2 separate regions of the Homo sapiens genome follow, and region 2 is linked to region 1. The links come from fine-mapping of genetic effects on gene expression. A gene starts in region 1. The other region holds a variant in brackets. All regions are shown on one strand. Distances are between the middles of the regions.

Evidence for each region. PIP is the estimated chance that this variant, and not a neighbour inherited with it, causes the effect.
Region 2: its variant is fine-mapped to the expression of COX16 in lymphoblastoid cells (GTEx, PIP above 0.99).

What each region holds. Positions count from the first base shown.
Region 1 is chr14:70,357,503-70,362,729 of GRCh38, forward strand. It overlaps COX16 (cytochrome c oxidase assembly factor COX16), which reads right to left and starts at 2,181. Exons shown (of 4, transcript NM_016468.7): 1 at 2,017-2,181. The coding sequence starts at 2,085. All of the region lies in intron 3 of SYNJ2BP-COX16 (SYNJ2BP-COX16 readthrough), which reads right to left. It also overlaps the pseudogene RNU2-51P. RefSeq lists enhancers at 1,901-2,210, 2,671-2,760.
Region 2 is chr14:70,306,060-70,311,286 of GRCh38, forward strand. All of the region lies in intron 4 of LOC101928046 (a long non-coding RNA gene), which reads left to right. Among named protein-coding and RNA genes, the nearest start is that of COX16, 51 kb to the right of the region's middle. The variant A/G (reference allele first, on the strand shown) is at 2,021.

The DNA.
Region 1 (5,227 bases):
ACTGGCAGATTTGTTGGTTTTGGGTTTTAAAGAAACCTCTGTCCAATAAAAGGAAACATAGTCCAATTAAAAAATGGGCAAAGGATTTGAACAGACATTTCTCCAAAAAGATATTCAAATGACCAATAAACATTTGAAAAGATGCTCAACATAATAAGTCGTTAGGGAAATGAAAATCAAAACCACAATGAGGTATCACTTCACACCTACTAGAAAGGGTAATAATTCAAAAGATGGACAATAACAAGTGTTGGCAAGGATGTGGAGAAATTGAAAATCATATCTTGCTGGTGGGAATGTAAAATGATGCAGCCACTTTGGAAAACATCTGGCACATCCTAAAAAGTTGAAGAGTTACCATATGACCTAGCAATTCCACGTCTAGGTATATTCCCTACCTGAGAGAAATGAAAACATACTTCCACACAAAGCGTGTACATAAATGTTCATAGCAGCATTATTCATAATAGTCAAAAATTGAAACAACCCAAATGTTCATCAATTGATAAAATATATCCAAACAATGGAATTATATCCATCAAAAGGAATGAAGTATTGATATATGTTACAATGTGAATGAACCTTAAAAACATTCTAAGTGGAAGAATCCAGTCACAAAAAACCCACGTTGTATTAGTGTGTTAATATGAAATGTGCAGAATAAGCAAATTTACGGGTAGAAGTAGATTAGTGGTTTACCAGGCCAGCATTAAGAGGCAGGAAGAAATGGGAAGTGACTACTATTAGTTATGATGCTTTTTTGGGGGCAATGAAAATGTTCTAAAATTGTGGTGATGGCTCCATAACTAAGAATATACTAATATACGAATATATTAGTATACTAATATCGAATTTGCTAAAAACAACAATTTTTTTTTTTTTTTTTTTTTTTGGAGAGACAGAGGTCTTGCTGGTTTGGAACTCCTGACCTAAAGCGATCCTCCTGTCTTGGCTTCCCCTAACACTGGGATTACAGGTGTGAGCCATCGTGCTTGGCCCAGATACTTCAAATGGGTGAATCTTTTGGAGATTCCTAAAATCCACATTTGATGAATGTGGATTTTTCAAAACTGTGTAAAATATCCATTACCTTTCTAAGATCACTTCTTTCCTTTAGTCTGCTTAAATGGAAAAGCTGGTAATTTCATCTGCGCCAACATTCATACAAAATAAAAATATAGTCTGTATTTAAAAGCAGCTTTTGTTCATATGCTTTAATTATTTCATTTACTAACACATCAAGGCTTGCTGAAGCAAAATAACTGGCCCGTAATCAAAAAGCAAATAAGAGTCATCTGGATTTCAACTCTGGTTGTCTTAAGCCAGCCTCAGCCTGCATTTCATGACATCCTTAGGGAACTCAGTGTGGATATGGATGAAACCATATAAACACGGAAGCTGTTTTCAACGTGCTTTAGAAATTATAACACAGCAATCATTCTGGCTACAATGTGGCAGGCACCGTACTCAACACTTTATTCACAAGGTGTTATTAGTTCATCACAACTCTAAGTATTAAGCTAATTCACAAACTAGAAAGATGAAACAGAAAGATACCAGGAATTCGTGCAGTTAAATGGAATACATCTAGTCCCAATGATCCACAGTATCGTCAAAACATAGCTAAGTTGGGGGCGAGGAAGCAAGCTTAGTAATCATCCAAACTTGGCTTAAAGTGTGGTTCTGACTGAATTCTCTGAGCTTCAATTTACTTAACTGTGAATCAAGGGTAGTAACAATGACCGCGTTCGACGATGGGAAAGACGCCACGCTCACAAGCAGACAGATCCTAGTACACCTGAAATCCAACCGGGAGTGGGGGACAGCGGCGGGGAAGTGGGGGTGTGGAAAAGACTGGTGGAAGAGCTTTTAGGAAAGCTCTCACCCCGTCGCTAGCTCCTTCCTAGCCCGAGTGCCAGCCCTTAACTTCACATTTTACAGATTCCCTCCCAGGTCTTGATCCTGCCAAGGAGGAGGGTCCCACCCCTTGCGGAAGATCCTCCTCACTCCACTCACCAACATGGGGACTCCATAGCCGAGAGTCTTGTTCTTGCGAAAAGCACGCATCACCGCGGGTGCAAACATGAGTGAACTCTTCCATCGGCTCAGAACTCCAAGCGGGCCTAGCGCAGACTCCCAAATCTCAGCAGCTCACGCTCTCACCAAGACGAGTACGTCCTTAACTCACTTCCTTTTCCTTGGTTATTTGGTGCTCGGTCCTTAGTGAATGGTTTCCGCTAGGCAAAAGCAATCGAGCCATCGTAACATACTTGTGCGTCCGCCCAGAAATGTGGGCGTCAGCGTTTTTGGTTCCGTAACGTCGGCGTGCAATTGGGATTTAGAGATTTGAATCGGTTTACGATCACCACCAAATTGATCTGGAAACCAGTACTTCCCACGTTCTGGGTCCTAACTAACGTCTGCTTAGAACACTCCCTTAGGCACATAGCCACTCGATAAAATCAGCTAAGGAAAAAAGTATTTTGAGGCCGGGCGCGGTGGCCTGGGTGGGTGGCCTGTAATCCCAGCACTTTGGGAGGCCGAGGCCGGTAGATCACCTGAGGTCAGGAGTTCTAGATCAGCCTGGTCAACATGGTAAAACCCCGTCTCTATTAAAAAAAAAAAATACAAAAATTAGCCGGGCGTGGTGGCAGGCGCCTGTAATCCCAGCTACTGGGGGGCCGAGGCAGGAGAATCGCTTGAACCCGGGAGGCGGAGGTTGCAATGAGCAGAGATCGCGCCATCGCACTCCAGCCTGGGGAACAAGAGCGAGACTTCGTCTCAAAAAGAAAAAAGAAAAAAAAGTATTTTGAAGCTGGTACTCCAGTCTTTATGGCTATTTGTGGGATGAGGAATTTGCCAGTTTAATGGAGACTTTTAAAAATAAATCGCTTTTGAAAGATTAGGTTGAAATGTAATCAGTGTAGTGTCTCATCAGTCATTACTGAACTTTTAATGCTAATGATTTTACTGTGAGATAACCTGTAATCTTTAGTCATTTATGAATGTCTATTTACCAATGATTCAGCAACCATACAGGCCACCTTTCAGCGTGTCTTTGAAAGGGTTCTAGGAACACAGATAAAAATATATGATCCTTACCTTAAAGACACTGGCGATTTCATGGGCACAGAAACAAACATGTGTGAAGTACTGGGATAGCTTAGGAAGCCGATCCCCCACGTGTCCCATTTACCAGAGTGAATCAGAGTGCAGGTGATGCGGAATATTATCTTCCATGCTATTCCTGAAATATTTCCATCTGTCCCTGCCTCTCTGTTACCACTGAAATGTTCCTTTTTTTAATTCCTTATCATCTTTTCACCTATTAAAGTAGCCTCTTAAGTGGTCTCCAGAAGAGAAGCTCCAGATCTACTGCAGGCTACTCCAGTGAAACTTATCCTTTTGGCTAAGATCAAGTGTAGTATCTGTTCTTAACAGTTTAATATTTGACACATTCTCTATCCAAGGAAAATATGTTAAATGGGTTTTTGAAGCAAGGAGATGGAATAGGAGTTTGCTCCACCACTCTACACATCAACCTGTATTTCAATACCTCCAGAAACCCAGGAACGGTGCATCTCTCCCATCTTATTTACTTCCTTTTGATATTTCAAAATTCATGCAGACCAGGCATGGTGGCTCATGCCTGTAATACCTGCAGTTTGGGAGGCTGAGGCAGGAGGATCATTTGAGCCCAGGAGTTCGAGACCAGCCTGAGCAACAAAGCAAGACCCCATCTTTACAAATAATAATAATAATAATAAATTAGCCAGGCATGGTGGGGTCTCAGCTACTTGGGAAGCTGAGGTGGGAAGATCACTTGAGCCCAGGAGGTCCAGGCTACAGTGAGCCGTGATCATGCCACTGCACTGCAGCCTGGGTGACACAGCTAGACCCTGTTTCAAAAATAAATAAATAAATCTCACGTGGCATCCAGGTTAGTTAAGCGTATCACATCTCCTACTTTCCCTAAGATCCTAGAAGCCAAAGGCGCTGCTCTAAAACTCTAGCGTTTTCCTACATCTTCACTACATAAAACATCAGCCTACTGGATACTACTCCATCAAAACCCGGCACCTAAGTAGTAGCTAATAATGGGTTAAATCGTATACATATATTCAAAATAATGCTAGAGTCGATAATCTTACACTTTTCAGATAAGGCATCTATCCAATTTAAGGCACTCTATGTCTTTAGTATCTTGTTTGTTCAATCACTCAAATAAGCATTTATTGAGAACCTTGAAATGGCCCTGAAGGAGTAACTGTGAACAGTAGGAATTACAGGTATGCCGGCAGATTGTCAGGGGACAAAATCTGTGACACTGAGGAATGTAAGCACCTATCAAATCATACTACATAGGTGGTAAATTTTACCAGCTATGCATAGCGCCCTTCTTAAGCATCACTACTGTATACTTCAGTTTTTCCATCTGTTAAATCGGAATGAGTGATATTTGTCATCAGTTTACGATTCTCACAAAAAGGGAACACAAAATTTCTTACCAGTATGGAATCTGTTGCCTTCCCAGAAATATGACTCAAATTCCATGTGTTTCCATTGTTAATAAACAGTTAAAATGCTGACTCAGCTATCTTAACTGTAAGAAGTTACAAAAAATGTATATTCAGGAAATGGGGCATCTCCACCATCTATGCCAGTCCCTGAGGACTGGTATGTACTTGATATCCAGGCAGGTTATATTATCCTCTAGTATCTGCTCTACCAGCATTTAACTCATGCAAGTACATGGGAGCGTTGTTATAAAACAAAAACAAAAACACCAGTCTTCTTGAGAGCTTTAGTCCTGAAGTTAGGTTTTAGAATTATGGCCAGAACTGGCCAGCCACAGTGGCTCATACCTGTAATCCCAGCACTTTGGGAGGCCGAGGCGGGCAGATCACCTGAGGTCAGGAGTTTGAGACCAGCCTGGCCAACATGGTGAAACCCTGTCTCTACTAAAACTACAAAAATTAGCCGGGCATGAAGGCGCATGACTGTAATCCCAGCTACTCGGGAGGCTGAGGCAGGAGAATCACTTGAACTCGGGAGGTGGAGGCTGCAATGAGCCGAGATGGTGCCACTGCACTCCAGCCTGGGCAACAGAGCAGAATTATGGCCAGAATTCATGGCTATGGTAATCGAAAGATTAGTTACTTCATGAATCTTTGTTTACTTTGATAATGCCATTGAATCTACTAATTGTTTTTTTTTTTTGAGACAG
Region 2 (5,227 bases), 51 kb before region 1:
ATGGTTGTAGATATGTGGTATTATTTCTGAGGGCTCTGTTCTGTTCCATTGGTCTATATCTCTGTTTTGGTACCAGTACCATGCTGTTTTAGTTACTGTAGCCTTGTAGTATAGTTTGAAGTCAGGTGGCATGATGCCTCCAGCCTTGTTCTTCTGGCTTATGATTTCCTTGGCAATGTGGGCTCTTTTTTGGTTCCATATGAACTTTAAAGTAGTTTTTTTCAATTCTGTGAAAAAAGTCATTGGTAGCTTGATGGGGATGGCATTGAATCTATAAATTATCTTGGGCAGCATGGCCATTTTCATGATACTGACTCTTCCTATCTGTGAGCATGGAATGTTCTTCTATTTGTTTGTGTCCTCTTTTATTTTGTTGAGCAGTGGTTTGTAGTTCTCCTTGAAGAGGTCCTTCACGTCCCTTGTAAGTTGGATTCCTAGGTATTCTCTTTGAAGTAATAGTGAATGGGAGTTCACTCATGATTTGGCTCTCTGTTTGTCTCTTATTGGTGTATAGGAATGCTTGTGATTTTTTCACATTGATTTTGTATCCTGAGACTTTGCTAAAGTTACTTATCAGCTTAAGGAGATTTTGGGCTAAGACGATGGGGTTTTCTAAATATACAATCATGTCATCTGCAATCAGGGACAATTTGATTTCCTCTTTTCCTAACTGAATACCCTTTATTTCTTTCTCCTGCCTGATTGCCCTGGTCAGAACTTCCAACACTATGTTGAATAGGAGTGGTGAGAGAGGGCATCCCTGTCTTGTGCCAGTTTTCAAAGGGAATGCTTCCAGTTTTTGCCCATTCAGTATGATATTGGCTGTGGGTTTGTCATAAATAGCTCTTATTATTTTGAGATACGTCCCATCAATACCTAGTTTATTGAGAGTTTTTAGCATGAAGGGCTGTTGAATGCTTTTTCTGCATCTATTGAGATAATCATGTGGGGCTTTTTTTTGGTTTTTGTTTTTGAGACAGAGTCTCGCTTTGTTGCCCAGGCTGGAGTGCAGTGGCGCGATCTTGGCTCACTGCAAGCTCCGCCTCCCAGGTTCACGCCATTCTCCTGCCTCAGCCTCCCGAGTAGCTGCAACTACAGGCACCCACCACCACACCCAGCTAATTTTTTGTATTTTTAGTAGAGATGGGGTTTCACCATGTTAGCCAGGATGGTCTCAATCTCCTGACCTCGTGATCTGCCCACCTTGGCCTCCCAAAGTGTTGGGACTACAGGTGTGAGCCACCGCTCCCAGCCCCAATCATGTGGTTTTTGTCTTTGGTTCTGTTTATATAATGGATTACGTTTATTGATTTGCATATGTTAAACCAGCCATGCATCCCAGGGATGAAGCCAACTTGATCATGATGGATAAGCTTTTTGATGTGCTGCTGGATTCAGTTTGCTAGTATTTTATTGAGCATTTTCACTTCAATGTTCATCAGGGATATTGGTCTATAATTCTCTTTTTTTGTTGTGTCTCTGCCAGGCTATGGTATCAGGATGATGCTGGCCTCATAAAATGAGTTAGGGAGAATTCCCTTGTTTTCTATTGATTGGAATAGTTTCAGAAGGAATGGTACCAGCTCCTCTTTGTACCTCTGGTAGAATTCGGCTGTGAATCCATCTGGTCCTGGACTTTTTTTGGTTGGTAGGCTATTAATTATTACCTCAATTTCAGAGCCTGTTATTGATCTATTCAGGGATTCAACTTCTTCCTGGTTTAGTCTTGGGAGGGTGTATGTGTCCAGGAAGGTAGATTTTCTAGTTTATTTGCACAGAGGTGTTTATAGTATTCTCTGATGGTCATTTGTATTTCTGTGGGATTGGTGGTGACATCCCCTTTATCATTTTTTATTGAGTCTATTTGATTCTTCTCTCTTTTCTTCTGTATTAGTCTTGCTAGTGGTCTATCAATTTTGTTGATCTTTTCAAAAAACCAGCTCCTAGATTCATTGATTTTTTGAAGGGTTTTTCATGTCTCTATCTCCTTCAGTTCTGGCTCTGATCTTAGTTATTTCTT[A/G]CCTTCTGCTAGCTTTTGAATGTGTTTGCTCTTGCTTCTCTAGTTCTTTTCATTGTGATTTTAGGGTGTCAATTTTAGATCTTTCCTGCTTTCTCTTGTGGGCATTTAGTGCTATAAATTTCCCTCTACACACTACTTTAAATGTGTCCCAGAGATTCTGGTACGTCATGTCTTTGTTCTCATTGGTTTCAAAGAACATCTTTATTTCTGCTTTCACTTAGTTATTTACTCAATAGCCATTCAGGAGCAGGTTGTTCAGTTTCCATGTAGTTGAGTGGTTTTGAGTGAGTTTCTTAATCCTGAGTTCTAATTTGATTGCACTGTGGTCTGAGAGACAGTTTGTTATAATTTCTGTTCTTTTACATTTGTTGAGGAGCGCTTTACTTCCAACTATGTGGTCAATTTTGGAATAAGTGCCATGTGGTGCGGAGAAGAATGTATATTCTGTTGATTTGGGGTGGAGAGTTCTGTAGAAGTCTATTAGGTCTGCTTGGTGCAGAGCTGAGTTAAAGTCCTGGATATCCTTGTTAACTTTCTGTCTCATTGATCTGTCTAATGTTGACAGTGGAGTGTTAAAGTCTCCTATTATTATTGTGTGGAAGTCTAAGTCTCTTTGTAGGTCTCTAAGGACTTGCTTTATGAAGCTGGGTGCTCCTGTATTGGGTGCATATATATTTAGGATAGTTATCTCTTCTTGTTGAATTGATCCCTTTACCATTATGTAATGGCCTTCTTTGTCTCTTTTGATCTTTGTTGGCTTAAAGTCTGTTTTATCAGAGACTGGGATTGCAACCCCTGCTTTTCTTTTGCTTTCCATTTGCTTGGTAGATCTTCCTCCATCCCTTTATTTTGAGCCTATGTGTGTCTCTGCACATGAGATGGGTCTCCTGAATACAGCACACTGATGATGCGTCTTGACTCATTATCGAATTTGCCAGTCTGTGTCTTTTAATTGGGGGCATTTAGCCCATTTACATTTAAGGTTAATATTGTTATATGTGAATTTGATCCTGTCATTATGATGTTAGCTGGTTATTTTGCTTGTTAGTTGATGCAGTTTCTTCCTAGCATCAATGGTCTTTACAATTTGGCATGTTTTTCCAGTGGCTGGTACCAGTTCTTTTTCATGTTTAGTGTTTCCTTCAGGAGCTCTTGTAAGGCTGGTGGTGACAAAATCCCTCAGCATTTGCTTGTCTGTAAAGGATTTTATTTCTCCTTCACCTATGAAGTTTGGCTGGATATGAAATTCTGGGTTGAAAATTATTTTCTTTAAGAATGTTGAATATTGGCCCCCACTCTCTTCTGGCTTATAGAGTTTCTGCTGAGAGGTCCGCTGTTAGTCTGATGGGCTTCCCTTTGTGGGTAACGCGACCTTTCTCTCTGGCTGCCCTTAACATTTTTTCTGTCATTTCAACCTTGGTGAATCTGACAATTATGTGTCTTGGGGTTGCTCTTCTCAAGGAGTATCTTTATGGCATTCTCTGTATTTCCTGAATTTCAATGTTGGCCTGCCTTGCTAGGTTGGGGAAGTTCTCCTCGATAATATCCTGAAGAGCGTTTTCCAACTTGGTTCTCCCCGTCACTTTCAGGTACACCAATCAGACGAAGATTTGGTCTTTTCACATAGTCCCATATTTCTTGGAGGATTTGTTCGTTTCTTTTAACTCTTTTTTTCTCTAAACTTCTCTTCTCACTTCATTTCATTCATTTGATCTTCAGTCACTGATACCCTTTCTTCCATTTGATCAAATCGGCTGCTGAAGCTTATGCGTGCATCATGTAGTTCTTGTGCCATGGTTTTCAGCTCCATCAGGTCATTTAAGGTCTTCGCTACGCTGTTTATTCTAGTTATCCATTTGTCTAATCTTTTTTCAATGTTTTTAGCTTCTTTGCGATGGGTTTGAACATCCTCCTTTAGCTCAGAGAAGTTTGTTTTACTTACTGATCTTTTGAAGCCTACTTCTGTCAACTTGTCAAAGTCATTCTCCGTCCAGCTTTGTTCCATTGCTGGTGAGGAGCTGCATTCTTTTGGAGGAGAAGAGGTGCTCTGACTTTTAGAATTTTCAGCTTTTCTGCTCTGGTTTCTCCCCATCTTTGTGGTTTTATCTACCTTTGGTCTTTGATGATGGTGACCTACAGATGGGGTTTTGGTGTGGATGTCCTTTTTATTGATGTTGATCCTATTCCTTTCTGTTTGTTAGTTTTCCTTCTAACAGTCAGGACCCTCAGCTGCAGGTCTGTTGGAGTTTGCTGGAGGTCCTCTCCAGACCCTGTTTGCTGGGGTATCACTAGCGGAGGCTGCAGAACAGCAAATATTGCAGAACAGCAAATGTTGCTGCCTGATCCTTCCTCTAGAAGCTTCGTCTCAGAGGGGCACCCGGCTGTATGAGGTGTCAGTCGGCCCCTACTGGGAGTTGTCTCCCAGTTAGGCTATTCGGGGGTCAGGGACCCACTTGAGGAGGCAGTCTGTCAGTTCTCAAATCTCAAACTCCGTGCTGGGAGAACCACTACTCTCTTCAAAGCTGTCAGACAGGGACGTTTAAGTCTGCAGAAGTTTCTGCTGCCTTTTGTTCAGCTGTGCCCTGACCCCAGAGGTGGAGTCTACAGAGGCAGGCAGGCCTCCTAGAGCTGCAGTGGGCTCCACCCAGTTCAAGCTTCCCGGCCGCTTTGTTTACCTAGTCAAGCCTCAGCAATTGCAGACGCCCCTCCCTCAGCCTCACTGCCACCTTGCAGTTCAATCTCAGACTGCTGTGTTAGCAGTGAGCAAGGCTCCATGGGCATGGGACCCTCCCAGCCAGGCATGGGATATAATCTCCTGGTGTGCCGTTTGCTAAGACCATTGGAAAAGCGCAGTATTAGGGTGGGAGTGTCCCGATTTTCCAGGTACCGTCTGTCACGGCTTCCCTTTGCTAGGAAAGGGAATTCTCCGAACCCTTGTGCTTCCAGGGTGAGGCGATACCCCGCCCTTCTTTGACTCACACTCACATGGGCTGCACCCACTGTCCAACAAGTCCCAGTGAGATGAACCTTGTACCTCAGTTGGAAATGCAGAAATACCCATCTTCTGTGTCACTCACACTGGGAGCTGTAGACTGGAGCAGTTCCTATTCGGCCATCCCTTTCTAACTCTTAAACACTGACAGCAATTAAAGCCTCATCTTCAGGCCCCATAGAAGATGCCAATCAAAATAAACTACCTTCTTGAGA